2 separate regions of the Homo sapiens genome follow, and region 2 is linked to region 1. Evidence: fine-mapped expression QTL. Tissue or cell type: T cells. Region 1 holds a variant in brackets; the other region holds the start of a gene. All regions are shown on one strand. Distances are between the middles of the regions.

Region 1 (7,993 bases):
GTCTGGGTTGACAGGGGGTGATGTGACGAAGGCTGCGGCCTTGGCCCAGTTCTTGCTCCAGTAGTGTGAACCGTCGGTGCCCAGGCTGGCGGTGATGGGCTCCCCAAACACGACCACCCCTGCAGCACGAGGCCCATGAGAGGTGCCCCACCGACCACCTGCACCCCCTGGGGCCCCGAGAACTGCTGCTGCTGACACCCACGACTGCCCCTCACTTTCCTTGCCTGGGACAGCTTGTGCCCAGTCTAGAGTCCCTGGCCCTGGGCAGGAAGTGGGGCAGAGGCCTGGGTCGCGGGCAGACGTGGTTGGCCCTGGGGGTCCTTCTGGGAAAGGGAGTCTGGCCTGCGGACGCCAAGTCCTCTCTCTGCCCACACCCCACCCCAGGACCCCGGGCACTCCAGCGGGGCCAGGGCGTGCCTGTGGGCTGCGAGGCACAGTGAACTGCATGGCGGCTGACTGGCCGGGGGTGCCCTGGCCATGGCCTCACCAGGGTTCCAGCTCACAGCTGAGGCAGCTCCCACCAGTGGGTGGGGGAGAAATGCTCCCAGGTGGGGTGGGGCACCCCCCGAGAAGAGCCTGGCGGGTGGGGTACCCCTGAGAAGGGCCTGGCCTGCTGCCCCGAGGCTGCTTGGTGTCCTGAGTGAGGCCCGGGCCTCACCCCTGCAGACCCCCATTCACCTGCACGCCTCAGAGTCCTTTTCCCAGTTAACTGAGTGGGTTTCAGTTTCAACCCTCGATGCAGGAAACACATAGAAGGGCACCACCCACCACCACCACCACCCCGCCCCCCACCCTGCCCAGGGACCTGCACAGCCCCAGGCAGGCCCAGAAAACGAGGTCTCTCAGGACTCAGTGCGGACAGCAGGAGGAGGGGAAACCAGACCAGATCCAGAGGCCGCCTAGGGGATGCCCCCTCATTTACCCGTCACCTGGGTTCTGTGCCTGGATCCTTGGCCCTCTCCAGCCCCAGTGATTGCTGGGGCTCCATGGACCCTCTGAGCCCAGTAGCCTCTGGGGGACACCACAGTCAAGCCGCTGCCAATCACAGCTCTGGGTGGCACCCCCCCGCCCAGGCCTGAGGCTCTCTGCAGTGCCAGGCTCCAGCTGGCTGGCATTCTGTGGGCAGGTAGCACCCCGGCTCTGGACACAGCAAATAGCAATGTAGGGAGGGCCTCCTTGTTGGAACTGGAATTCTCTCTTGGAGACCCTCCTCATCATTCCATTCTCCCCACACCCACCCCCACTGGAAATGGGATGAGCGTCCCCATGTTTTGCCTCAGGGCCCCTGGTGAGCAGCTGCTGCTCCAGCAAGGCTGGAAACTCAGGTCCAGCCCCTGCCCCGATGCAGGGACTCAGGGTCCAGTGCCCCACCCCGATGCAGGGACTCAGGGTCCAGTGCCCCGCCCCGATGCAGGGACTCAGGGAACCTGCATCTCCCCAGGGCTGCACCCAGGAGGCCGAGACCATGGCCCCTCGGCATCAGAGGCGGGGCTGGGTGCTCACCTCTGCGCTTGGCCTGAGCGATGGCGTCGGCCGCCCCCTTGCTCATCACCTTGGTGACGTACAGCGGGCAGTTTGCCTGCTTGGCGATGGTGACAGCTCGGTACACCGCCTCAGCCTCCACCTGGGGACGAGATGAGAGGGATGAGGCCACACGAGGGCCCTGGGGCTCCAGACCAGTGTGGGCAATGGGGATGCCCAGGTGTCACCCATGGGATCCCAGGCTCAGGGCAGCCTAGTAGGAGCGGCCCAGCCTCGGGCTCAGTGCCTGGGCCTGCCCACGCCACCTTCTGGGCCTCGGGTACAGGCTGTAGGGTTGTGGGGGGATGGAGGACAAGTGCCTGGCACGGGGAGGATTCACGCCTCCCAGATGAGGTCGGGGCGAGCACAGTGGCAGGGCCAGGAGCCCAGGGCCAGGGTCAGCACAGCCCCAGGCAGCAGTGGTCTGGGCGGAGTTGGCTCGGGTGTGCTGTGGTGCCCTGGGATCTTACCTCCTCGGGGTGGCTGAGCACGTGGCCCTCGGGGCCAGTGATGCCGAGCTCCAGCAACCGCTTCTGCTCCTAAAGAAACCAACAGGATGCCTCGCTCCAAGCCCTGAAGGGAGCCTGGGCCTTGGATGCTAAGCCCAAGGCTGGGAGGCCCCATTCCCCAAGTGGTCCTGGACCCCCAGGCCTCCCAGAATTTCCCAGCCACAGAACACTCAGAATAGAGGGCAGAGGGGCTTGGAGAGGTGTGATTCCTGCTCCCTGAGTTACCAAGGAGGGGACAGCTCGGATAGGGGAAAGTGGCTCCCCCAAGGCTGCAGGGCTCCTGACTGATGGCACCAAGACCCCACCCTCCCACCACTATGCCCATCACGCTGCCTCCCCCAGCGGGGGCATGTGTGGGGGTGTGCACAGGCAGGGAGGGCTCTGCAGGTCAGGAATGGACGACCACTCCTTCCTCCAGCACTGCCTTTCCGTGCAGATTTGCACTACGGCATCCGCTCGTGTCAGGGAAGACATGGTACCGGCCAGAAGCAGCAGCCCCAATACTGAGGCTCCCTCCCGCTGTATGTGGAGCATCCCTAGACCCAGGACAACCTCCTGACGGTGCAGCCGGGGCCTGGCCTTGGGCCACAGAAGTGTTTGTGATGCCCCGATGCCCTCACAGCTGGACGGGTGGACGAGGACACTGGGGACCCCCCACATGCCCCTGCCCGAGTGCCACCACCTTCCTGTAGAGCTCAGGAGGTGGGCAGAGCCCGTCCCGTCCCACGAAGTCTCACTGTGGGTTTGCAGTGTCAGGGAGGTGTGTCCTGTGTGGTGACCCCCACTGAGGTCCCACGGGTATGGGGTGGCCCACTCTCTGAACTCCATCTGTACCTGTGGGTGCCTCTGCTAGAGGGGAAAACAAGGTGCAGGGCCAAGGTTGCCTCAGCCCCAAGGGCCTGGGGGGTCGGCGCCACTGCACGCGGGCTCAGGCCCTCCCCAGCCCGGTGGGATGTGTCTGAAGGATGTGGCCCTGTCAACATGGGTGCCCTTGGCTGGAAGGAAGGTGGTAACCCAACCCCCAGCGGGTACCCCGCTCCACAGGAGGGGCCTCGATCCCTGGGGCTGACACTTTGCTTTTGAGGTATTTTGGATAAGAAGTGTTGATCAAGGAGAAGCTGTTTTATGGCCTCAAAGCTCCCCATCACCCCCCAGTCTCTCTAACTCACTGGTTGACCTTTGACTCGGGGTAAGCTATGACCCTCCCTCAAGGTTTTGTGGGATTCTGTGCTGATGTCTGCGTATCATGAAAGTCACCCTCAGACCCCTGCCCCACCCCACAGGCAGCCCCTGCCCCACGGCAGCCCCTGTGCCTGCCCCACGGCAGCCCTGCCCCACGGCACCTCCTCCACGATGTCCCCGTTCTCAGCGTGCACCTGGGCCAAGGCCCCCAGGTCCCGGATGATGCTGAAGATCTCGTACATCTGGGAAGAGAAGTGGTGGCGTCCTGGGTGGGGCTGCGCCTGCACCAGCAGCGGCCTGGGATATACCTGCCCACTCCGTTCCCCACGC[CT/T]GCCCTTACCTGGCTGTCGCTGCACTGGCACCGGTCCTTGTATGCCATGAAGACCAGGAAGGAGTTCACACCTGGAGAAGAGGCAGGGGTCAGAGGCTCAGCCATCACCAGTCAGACAACCTACGGAGCCTCTGCTGCTCCTGCCCACTGGAGGGTTGGGGGTCTTGGGCCCCTCCCCCGCAGTGCTTCCCTCACTGGCTTGCCAGCCCTGGGAGCAGTCCCCCGCTTCCATGCACACACCAGCAAGCTGGGAAGTGAGGCGGAGGCAGCTACATCCAGGCCCTCCTTGCCTGCTCCTGTGCTCCGGGTTAGGAACTGATTGTCCACCCAGCGGCAAATGCAGGTGAGAACCCCTCACACCCATCCAGCAGACCCCCCGTTACTGGAAGAGCCGCTGTGCCTGGGCTCTCGGCCTGGGTTCCACTGGCTCCCTCCTGGAAGTGCGGCCAGGGCCGCGCTGTGCTGGGGACCTGCATTCTGGCCGTCCAGCACATCCAGCACCTGCCTGCAGGGCCTTGGAGCCCCACTTGCCATGCCTGGCTCACAGTGCAGGCTTGTGGGACCACCCAGATCTCAGGGCTGGGCCCTTAGGACGAGCAGAAGGATGAGGGGCTGCCTCTGACGTTGGGGCCCAAACAGGAAGAGGGCTGAGCTCTCCTGTTTCCTGGGCAGCCACAGCCCATCCACCTCCCCCAGGACTCGGAACTTGTGTGGGGACCGGCCTGGGCCTGGAGGCAGGATCCCAACCTCCCATCACTCAAGCCCACCCAACCCATGGCATCTCCTCCTCGCTGGGTGGAAAGTGCTAGTGTGACAAGCTAAGGCACACTGGGGAAACTGAGTCACACTGTGCCCCACAAGCCATCCCTCCAGGTAGCAACCTGTATGTGACCTGGAGTTTGAGGCCTGCCCCCGAGTGTCTGAGGAAGGTCATGTTTGGGTTGCGCAGTGCTGTCCCTGCAACACTACCCCGTGGGCACAGGACTGAGGACTCCTGCATGGCTCTTGGGGAGCAGAGGCCCCAGCACTGCCAACACAGGGTGAGGGGAGGTGCAGGCCCTGCTTCCACCTCCGCTCTGAGACACGAGGCCACAGGCCTCCCGAGTCCACTCACAGAACAGCATGGGTGGCAGAGCAGCTGCCTGGAGTGAGGCCCAGGGACTGAGGATTGACGGGCTCCACCAGCCCCCGGGCAGGGAGGTGAGGGGTCCTGACATCAAGGGGCACCTATGTGATGACCGTCACCCTCTGAGGAATGGGAACCCAGAGGAATGGCCTTGAAGAAATGCCCCTGCCTCCTTCAGGTCTGTAGGGGACGGGTAGCAGGCATCCCTGGGAGTGCCAGGGCCTTGACAGGCTCCTGGGCTTGCTTGGACCCCATCCCGCCCCCACCTCCAGGCTGGAAGCTGTGGGCCGGACTCAGATTAGGAGAGATCGGCTATAATCAGATATGCCACTTGTCAAACCCACTATGAAACTCTGATGTAGTTTTAGCTTCAGGGTTTTTTGTGGGGAAAAATGTTAACTTGTTTATAGACTGATCTGTTTTAGCATTGGTGACAACAAAGAGATATGGATTTAAAAGGGTCTCCCTCTGAAAGGATCCCCAGATGCTAGGAGACTGGGGAACTGCTGCTCTTCCACCCTGGGCAGCCTCTCTTCTAAGAAACGACGGATCTGCTGCATCTTTTCATCAGGAGGACAATTCCAGGATGGGTCCCTCGGATTGGGAAAGAGAAGGCCTCTTGGTCTAGAGCCTTTGAAGGTGGGATGGGCCTTCAAATGACTTTTCTCCAACTTCCACTCAAACCTGGACACCAGCCCCCAGGGCAGAGCAGCACCATCGGCAGAACACAGGGTCAGGGCAGAGGCTCCTCCACCAGGCTCCATGCCCGCCCTCCAGCCCCTCCAGCCACCCTCACCCTTCTCCTTGACCAGGGCCTCCAGCTCCTCCTTGATGCTCTCATGCCATCGGGTGATGTCCACGTGCAGGGAGTAGTCGCAGCAGGCCGCGCTGTCCGCCCGCTCCCGCCACTGCTCGTAGGCCGCCAGCAGGCTCACACCCGTGTCGGGGAAGACGTGGTCCACTGTGAAGGCAGCATGGTCAGCAGCTTCCCCCACTGGTCCCTGGTTCCCACCTCTGCCTCCTCCATGGGAGATTCTGTTTCATGTTCCCAAGAGACCAGAGGACCATTTGAGGGAGACACAGCAGAGGCCACCGGCCCCTGAGAGAGGATGACGCTGCCACGAACCCGTTCTATTGCTTTGTTCAAAGAGGAACCTTCTGTCCCAAGTGCCCCAGCCACCCTCTGAGCACAGAAGGGAGAGGGGAGAAAGGAAAAGCCCCACCCCAAACCATCCCTACTCCCACATCGCACTTGGAGGAGCACAGGAGGTCGGGGCTTTGCCCTGCCTCCAGCTCCTGTCAGGCTGGGTGAGGCACCCCGAGGGCCAGGCTGGGCCAGTGCGCTGTCCAAGGTGCTGGGCCCCACCTCTGGGTGCCTTCCTAGAACAGTGGGAGCTGGGCTGGTTTCCCGAGTGCCCCACAAGACTTGAAAGGGGCCATCCTGCCCCCTGCACACAGCCATCATGCTGCTGCCCCACCAACCACACACCCAAGGCCCGAACACTGCTCACTGGCCTCTCCTGGTGCAGCCAGACACAGCTCCAAGCCAGGTGGTCGGACAGGAGGGCGCACCCGCCAGGGATGCCTTCCTCCAGCACAGCCCTCCCTCGGGCCCCTACTCATCCCAACAAGATGAAGTGGGCACCCAGCCTCCCTGCAGCCACCCACAGTGCCAGCCTGGGCCTGCAGGCCGAGGAAGACAGAGGCAGGATAGAGGCCAGCCTCGTGTCTGTGGTGTTTCTCTGTCTTCGCGGGGACCCACAGCTGGCCGGGTGCCTTGGCACTGGCACGAGGCAGGTGGTCTCGACTGTGCAGACGTCCTGACCGGCTTGGGCCGCCCCCTGAAGGGCGCGAGCAGTGGCCAGTCTCCTCAGACTGCAAGATGGGCTGCTGCTGGTGTTTTCTCCCTTTGTGGCTGAGTAAACCAAACCAAGCTGTGATTTGGTAATGGCTAAATGTCCCGCGAGGTGTTTCAGGGTCCTCAGAGCTGCCCTCCCCGGTGTGCCAGGGACACAAAGCAACTGACGTGCATTAACTCACACATGCCTCAGAAGCTCATGAGGCCAGTGTTCTGTTTTACAGATCAACAAAGTGTGACTTATAAAAGCCAGCTGAGTTTATCTGGAGTCACACAGCTAGAAAACCATACAACCAGGTTCAGCTAGGCTCCTCAGACCCGTTCTCAACCACAGCAGCGATGTCTGTGCCAGACGGACGCCGCAGAGTGAATGGCACCCAAGGCCACACAGTGCAGTCAAGGTCTAGGCTCTGAGGCCTCGTCCTGCCTCCTGAGCTCACCACGTGCTCGTGGTGGGCAGGCGGACTCCACTCACCCACCTGTTAAACTAGGCTTAGCTGAGCCCAGCTGGGCTGAGCTCAGAGGGTTTTAGGAGGAGAGCATGTGAGCCGATGGGTGTCAGGATAGAGCCCGTGCCGGGCACGCAGCCAGCACTACAGAAATAGCAACTCGGGTTATTTTTTGATGGGATAATAATGAGCATTGCTTTTATCTTTTTCTAAAAATACAGTCTCCATCCTTAACTCTTCTTGACATGAGCAAGAACCTTCCAGATATGAAGCTTCCGAGGCATGTGGCTCAAGGTCAAACATGTATCTGGCATTTCAGACAGCATGACCCCTCCCCTCGCCCAAGGCATTTGAGTTTTCCAACCCCCAACTCCGAGCTGGCTACTAGTGCCCAGGGAAGAACAAGTGGACACACGTCAGTCACTGATTTCCAGTCCTGGAAATCCCAGGAGCATTCCAGCACTGGCCACACAGAAACACCCAGAGTGAGACACAGGGATTAGAAAAGCACTCCAGGTTCTCAGACAGATGCAATAAAGGCAGACAGCTGAGAAAGGCACCTTTAGGCGACACTCCTCCTCCCACACACACCTGGCCAGAGAGAGGGGCAGCAGACGCTGGCTGCCCCCTGTAGAGGAGGAGACCCAGACACTCACAGATCATGGTGGTTCCTCCTGCTAGCGCTGCCTTGGTGCCCTGACAGAAGTCGTCAGCCGGTGTCATGCCCAGGACAGGCATCTGCAGCCTTGTGTGGACGTCAACGCCACCAGGAAGGACCATCAGGCCGTGGGCGTCAATGGTCTTGATGCCCCCAGGGACGATGAGGTTTTCTCCGATTTGTCTGAAAGCAGCAGAGATTTCACTGGTTACAGGGAGCCCAGGTCAGAGCCCAGATGGGCTCCCAGCAATGCAGCAGAGCTAAAGGGTTTGCATGAGCTCCAGACCCCGAGGAAAAGGCCAGCACGGCCGGCCACTCACTGGACTAGCTCCTCGGGAGTGCCAGGGAGCAAAGCATCA
Region 2 (7,364 bases), 110 kb before region 1:
ATTTAGACGAGAGGCTGGGTGCAGTGGCTCATACCTGTAATCCCAGCACTTTAGGAGGCTGAGTGGGGTGGATTTCTTGAGCCCCAAAGTTTGAGATCAGCCTAGGCCACAGTGTGAAATCCTTGTCTCTACCAAAAGCACAAAAAATCAGCCAGGGGTGGGGTCATGGATCTATGGTCCGAGCTACTCAGGAGCCTGAGATGGGAGGATCGCTTGAGCCTGGGAGGTCGAGGCTGCAGTGAGCCATGATAGCACCACTGCACTCCAGTCTGGGCAACACAGTGAGACTCTGTCTCAAAAAAAATCTTGAGCTGGGATTTTGGACTTAGAGTTGCTGCTGTAATGGTTGGGACTTTGGGGCTGTAGGGTGTGGTGAATCCATGCTGCCCATGGATGTGGTGGGTTAAATGGTGGCCTTTTGCCACCAAAGGACATGTCCGTGCCGGCCCTGTGAATGTGACCTTATCTGGAAAGAGGATCTTTGCAGATGTAACTAAGTTAAGGATCTCAAGATGATATCATCCTGGAGTAGGGTGGGCCCTAAGTCCAATGACAAGTGTCCTTATAGAGGAAGAAAAGGGCGGAGTAGACAGATGAAAAGGCAACGTGATGATGGTGGCAGCAGGGGCTGGGGTTGTGGGTCCTTAAGCAGAGCTGAGCGGTGAACTCATGCTCGGCCCCGGCGCACTGCAGTGGGGGCGAGGGCTCCTTCCTAGTGGCTGCAGCCCGTCCTGCATGTTCTCCGTCGCTGTGCTCCTTCCTGAGTCACCAGGTGGCCACATGACCTTTAAAATCAATACTGTCACCATAGCAACCAAGTGTCCCCACACGTGGGCTCCAAGGCCCTGGCCTTCCAAGAATCCTCAGTCCCAGGCCCCGCCAGGGCTGAATCTGAGGGCGCCACGGCCATCTGTCTTCCATTTCCCAGGAGGGAGGCTGTCCGTGGATTCTCCACATAGGTGGACACCAGCATCGGAGTCCCATGGGAGCCCATTTCCTGTTTTGGGGGTCAGTTCTGAGATGTGTTTTCCAGCAGGAAACAGCACACACGAATCGTGTGATCTGAGGAGATTTAATAAAAGGACTCTTAACAAAGGCGTGGGCAGAGCATGTGTTAATTTCATAATGATGACAGAAGATGAAGCACACATCTCGGTGTGACTGAGCTGTGTGCCAATTATGTGGCAACGGAGGACCCATGTCCAAGGCATGTCCCTCAGGAGGCGTGGCTTTATGGACGAATTATGAACAAATGCACATGAAGCCTGGTGTCAGGGACTGCACCTTGTCCCCCAAACCACCCCCAGCCCTTCAGCACATGCCACGGCCACTCACTTGCTGTCCTGCAGCATGGACCCTCCTGTCCTCCCGCACAAGCCGGTTTCTACCTTAGGGCCAGCTCCTGCTGTTGGAACCCGGACACCTGGCCTCCCTTGGGCTACTCGTTCATGCTCCGGCCTCAGCATCAAGGTCACCTGCTCAGAGACTCATGCTGGACTACCCAAGCTAAAGTGGTCCCACGATCATGCACGTGCTGCCCAGCCATGTGCCTTCCTGTGTGCTCCTGCGTGCTAGACGTCAGTGCACTGAATGCATTTATCTGTCACATTGTCACTTGGTCTCCTGTCATTGGAAGGGGCAGACACCATCGCTGCCCTAATGAAGTTGACGTTCCCGGGCAGCATGGGCACACAGGGGAACTCAGGAATTCTCTACTGGCCTCACTGCCCCTTCCCATCCACAGCTGACTCTGTCCCAGCCTCAGTCCCTCCCAGCATCCCCCTAGAACTTCAGAGCTACCTCCCATGAGGCACCAGGGGTTGGCATCCTCTTGGGGACAGCAGTTCCTGACCCCTCCTGTCTCATGCCTACACTGTGCACCTCTTAACGCTCAGTCTTGTGTTTGCCTGGACCCTGAGCCGTGGCTGGACAGTACAAGAGTTGCACCTGGACAGTACAAGAGTTGTGCCCTGAGCCCACAGGCCCCTCCAGGGCTGATCTGCACTGGCCAAATCTTAGGACCCGGCATTCTTTTGGGAGCTGCTGTTTCCCTACAGATCCTTCCTGTTTCCTGACTGAGAGGCAGGTGCCTGGCTTGGTGTTTGAGGCTCACAGCAAGGGTGAGGTTGGAGGGTCTCCTAGTTAAGTGTGCAGATGTCCCCATGAACCCCTCTGCCCCCCTGCACTCTTGTCTTCTGCAGGACTTGGTATCCCTAGGTCAAGAGCCCCTTTGGACCCTCAGACCAGAGGACTGTCCATCCCCAACTGCCCGGGCCGGGGAGGCGTCCTGGGCTCTGGCTGTATTCACATTCTCCCGCCTTTTGGGGTCCTGGTTACCTGCAGGTCCTCAGCCTCTCCAATCTTCAGAGTCAGCTTTCTACCTGCTGTCTGAAGTCTATTAACATGTCTTCCCTTCTCCTGTTCCCTCTTAGGTGGTGGTGGGGACGTTATATCTTTTATTCCTTTTCTGCCACTTTTAGGGGTCAGAGGGAGAGGAGGAGAGGCGATGATGTAAGTTCAGAGGCTGCGTGTTTTGGGAGGAGCCCTGGGGAGTCTGATGTGTGCACCGGGTACGCAGGGTTCCAGGCACTGCCCTGCCTTGGTACCTCCCCTTCCAAACGCTCCTTCACCACTCCTGCTGGGATGGGCACCGAGGGCTTCCTCTGAGGCAGGTGCTGAACCCACTGCCTTCTGCGTGCCTGCTGGAGAATGGCAACTTTGAGGGAGAGCAGGGAACAGAGCTTCGCAGCTGCAAGGGCTGAAAACTCGGCTCTGTGCACTGGAAGTTAGAGACCGATGCGTTTGTGCTAGCCAGGCAGGGAGAGCTGCGGTGGCTGGTTGGTCAGGTAACCTAGGTTATGCTGCCATAAAAATACCCTCTAAATCTCAGTAGTGAAATGCATGCCATGTGTCCTAAGCGGGTGCATGTCCAGGTGGGTGCATGTCCTAGGCGGGTGCATGTCCAGGCGGGTGCATGTCCAGGCGGGTGCATGTCCTAGGTAGATGGGCATGGTTCCATTCCTTATAGTCCCCAAGGGATGGGGGCTCCTGTTGGCCCAGAAGCCACACAGACTTCCCGTGCTCACATTTCATGCATCAGGCGGTTAGGGCGGGCGGCCACACTGAATGTCAAAGGCCGTGGGGAGGCAGGGCTCACAGTGGCTGAATGACAGGGTAGACAGTTGTGTGCGGTGGGAGGGACGGGAGCGGGAGACACTGGCCTTGGAGCCATGTTGGGGATCCGCTCATCGTCCGGGCGGGCAGCAGGAAATCCCATCTAGGATTTCACCGAGGAGGAAGAGACCCCGTCTTTGTGTCCTGGTTACAGGGCAGAACTTAAGGAGGTAAAGGCTTCCTAAAGTCAAACAGCCCGGTAGCAAAAACTGATTCTTCAGTGACAAGCGCCAGGGGCAGGCGGCGAGGCTCCATGCAGAGCCGCGCCTTCTCCAGGGCACTCCAAGGCGCCCAGCACTTTCCGCGCAAGGTCGCGCCTGGCCCTGCGCAGGGGCAGAGGTGCCCGGAGGTCAAGCCGCGCCCCAGGCCTCCGAAATACGCCGAGTGCCGAGGCCCCTGTCGCATCTGGACAAGGGGACCCTGGGCGACTCGGGCACGCGGTCTCAGGCCGGACGGGGGTCGCGAGGATGGCACGGGGGTGCCCGAGAGCGCGGGCGCACGTGCTCAGGGCTTAGCGCCCACCCCAGGCGCCCGCGTGTGCGCGCGCGCAGCCAGGCCCGCCCTGCCCCACCCCACCCTCTGGCGCAGCGCTTGGACTCAGCCTGCCGCCTCCTGACCGTGAGCCGGGCTCTGCCCGGCAGATTCCCGCCGCCCGCATCCCGGGCCTGCAGCCCGGCCTCACCCTGCGCAAAGCAGAAGGCTGGAGTTTAGGGCTCCCCGCACTGGGCGGCGGAAGCCCGCGCGCCGGCTGTTTTCACGAAGAAGGCAGGGGAGGGAGGCCCCCGGAGACCGCGAGAAGGTCCCGCCGCCGTGCCGGGCACAGCAGTCCCCGTGCCAGGGACGCCGACCTCCGGGGCCCCAGGATACCCGTGGGGACGCTCCCTGCCTCCCTCGCTCTCGTACCCGCCGTCTAGTCTGAGCCGTGGTCCCCGTGTCCCGGCGAACCACAGCCCCCATCCCTAGACTGGTGGCGGCCACCCACTCCCTAGCGACACTCCAGGCACTAGCCCCGCCCCTGCCCCGCCCCCGGCTCGGCCCCGCCCCTACCCTTCCCGAAGCTCCGCACCTGCCACGCCCCGGCGCTCAGCTCCGCCTCGACCCCTTCCAGGAGCTCCGCCCCGCCCCCGCCCCTTCCAGAAGCCCCGCCCCTGCCCCGCCCCCAGCGCTCGCAATCTACGGGGCGGGTTCCACCGCCCAGAAGAGCGCACGGCGGGCGCTGCCGGCCCCGAGCGCTCCCGCTACCACTGCCGCTCCCGGCCCTGCCGGCCGGCCATGCCCCGAGTTCCGGCTGCCGCGCGCACCCAGACCCGGCGATGAGGAGTGGCGCCGAGCGCAGGGGCAGCAGCGCCGCGGCGTCCCCGGGCTCGCCGCCCCCCGGCCGCGCGCGCCCCGCCGGCTCCGACGCGCCCTCGGCCCTGCCGCCGCCCGCTGCTGGCCAGCCCCGGGCCCGGGACTCGGGCGATGTCCGCTCGCAGCCGCGCCCCCTGTTTCAGTGGAGCAAGTGGAAGAAGAGGATGGGCTCGTCCATGTCGGCGGCCACCGCGCGGAGGCCGGTGTTTGACGACAAGGAGGACGGTGAGTGCGGGCACGGGGACGACGTGGGGGCCGCGCGCTATTGCAGGGGCGGGCGCGGCTGGGCGGCTTTTTCCCGCAGGGGTTCCCCCGGTGTCCGGGACGGCTTCCCGGGGCGCCCCGGCTTCCGGAGAAGCTCGCGCCGGGTGGCTGCGGCCCCACGCGAGTTCTGGGCGCCCGCCCGCGTCCTCCGTTTCTAGTGGCGGCGCCGCAGGAGGAGCAGGCTGGGCCCGGGCCCTCGGGGCGAGGGTCCCCCGCGGCTGTGGCGTCTCCGGGCTTGCGCGCGCCTCCGCCCACCGCCCGTGGCAGCCCTGCTTTCCGCTTTCCGTGATCCGCTCGGGCCCACGTGCGGGCTCGTTTGTACTTTGCAGTTAGAGAGGCGCTCACCTGTGCCGCCCGAGTGCGAGTGAGGCTCCTGCCCCACAGGTGGCGGGGCCCGGCCGCTCAGAGGCTCAGTCTCCTTGGTGACCGCGCGGTGTCCATCCTCTGCTCACCCATGTGCGCTGGAGGCAGGGCCAGGCCGTTGTGCAAAGACCTGCCCTGCCAGGAACGAGTGCGCTGCTGAGTCCTGTAGATAAAGCCGCCAACCCCGGGGACTGGTGTCTCCTGAGTGACCGTGCAGCCGTGGGCGCCATAGAAAGCAGAGAAGGCAGGTGAGGTGACATGGGACAGGCCTGCAGGGACACCTCCCGGGGTGCCAGGGGGCCCCGGGGACCCCCGAATTATCACCTGCAGGGAGATGTGGTGCCGCGTCTGCCTGTGGGCACTGTAATACAGTCACATGCAGACATACAGCTCTTTTCTACAGGTAACATGCAAATCATTTAAAATCGTACATTGATGACACATTTCATGTTTTTTGACATTTTCTTAAAATACTTGAAATGTGCATTTTTCATTTATAGATAGCGTGCAGAGGTATGATGGATCCTTCAAAATTTTAGAGCCCAGCGCTCAGGAGCCAGGCTATTTACTTGCGATAAATAATTTAAGCATTATGGGAAATTACAGTAATACGACCTCAGGCCGGCGTTGGTGAGTGTGGGGCCGTGCACCGCCGTTCCTCCGGGAGACGGCACCGGGGATTCATGGTGTGCTGCCTAGAAGGAGGGCTGAAGGCCCAGCCACACCAGGCCCCACACGCTCCAGGGTGGCCCGTCACTGTGTCCTGAACTTCGGGACAGCAGAACTCACGATGGTGAATGTTTGAGAAATGTTTTTGTTTTTAACATAAATATTCAAAGTAAAGAAAGCCCAGAGTGAACTAGGAGCTGATCAGGAGGCAGATTTGCCTCTCGTTTCTGGCTGCGGGTTGAGAGAACGTCTGAGAAACGCATCTGGTTTAGCACTTGCTGGTGTCAGCCAAGAGCTGGCTGCTCTTCTGGGTCTCGGCACCGTGCTCTCCGGGGGTGGGAGTGGAGACAGTGGTGTGGCACTGGGCTGCCTTCAGCTTTGTAGGGTAGACTTCCCTGTGTGTTCACAGTGTGTTATGTCACAGAATTCAAGGATCACTAGAAAGGCAAAAAGAGCAAGCACAGAGTCTGTCTGTGGGGCTCACGGTCTGACTTGGGAATTCTTTCACATCCCCAGCATCACCGTATTTGCCTGTAGTAGGACGGCAGAGATTCGGCTGACGGTGTCCCACGGATGCTGCTGGCTCCGTATGGCTTGGTATGCAGCCACATCCCCAAACTGAGCACCCGCCGGGACTCAGCTGGGCTTTGTGTGGTGAAATCAGGAGGGCAAGACTAGGCCCTGGCCCGAATAGCAGAGGACATCTCTGGGCGGTGACCGCTTCCCTCCGCTTCTTCCTGTCACTGGCAGGGCACAGACAACTTGGGAGTCATAGCACAGGGTTTGCAGAAGAATGTTCTGCACCTCTGAGTGTGGATGCCGGGGACTCGTGTTGGTGGAAGGGATTCAGTTTGGAAGGAGAAAGGAGAGTCTTTTAGGAAGGGACTGTTGCCCCTGAGTCCCACCCCTTTCAGGTTGGTGCAGTCATTTGCCTGGTACTTTCGTGGCCCCGTGGCAGCACTGGCTTAAGGAGGCCCTGGTGCTGTGTTGGTGTCTCGAGTTTACTGAATCTGCACGGTTGCTATGGCAATGCTAGACCTTCCGATGAATTTTTTAGATTAAAACACCTAATTAATATATCAAATTTAGTATGCAGAGAAAAGGAAAAAAGAAATTAAGAGTGCTGTTTAACAAAGTGCCAGGTAAATTTCAACTGATAGGCATAGTTGCGACATATAAGACTAAATGTCCTCTGTTCCTTTTAATCCTTGTGGACTCCAGAACCATTTTCCTAATTTGGCAGATATTTGGTGCATGTACAGAATTCTCTGCACGTCTTTGTCATGCCAGAACTGAGGGTCTCCAGTTTTCCTTCCCCTCAGCCCCTCACATGCTCCCATTCTATCCCTTCTCTGACTTCGGTGAAAAATTCATTTTTGGGGTTGAACTTGGTTAGGGGGTCTTTCTGCTGCTGCTCTGCACCAGAGCTGCATGGCGTTGGGCGAGCCCCTTCATTCCTCTCTGTCTTGGTGTCCTGGTGATACCAAGTGAACCTGAGAGGAGGCTCCGGTACCTTCCCGCTAAGCAGCTCTGCAACCTGGGGG

Evidence for each region. PIP is the estimated chance that this variant, and not a neighbour inherited with it, causes the effect.
Region 2: it holds the start of STK32C, and the variant in region 1 is fine-mapped to the expression of STK32C in T cells (TOPMed, PIP 0.95).

Annotation. Positions count from the first base shown.
Region 1 is chr10:132,192,482-132,200,474 of GRCh38, reverse strand. DPYSL4 (dihydropyrimidinase like 4) reads right to left here. Exons shown (of 14, transcript NM_006426.3): 3 at 7,633-7,817; 4 at 5,466-5,630; 5 at 3,553-3,614; 6 at 3,374-3,454; 7 at 1,992-2,060; 8 at 1,504-1,624; 9 at 1-119. Among named protein-coding and RNA genes, the nearest start is that of DPYSL4, 9.5 kb to the right of the region's middle. The variant CT/T (reference allele first, on the strand shown) is at 3,543.
Region 2 is chr10:132,304,957-132,312,320 of GRCh38, reverse strand. STK32C (serine/threonine kinase 32C) reads left to right here and starts at 4,371. Exons shown (of 12, transcript NM_173575.4): 1 at 4,371-4,749. The coding sequence starts at 4,488. RefSeq lists enhancers at 622-916, 2,558-3,100, 3,101-3,645 and a silencer at 3,898-4,547.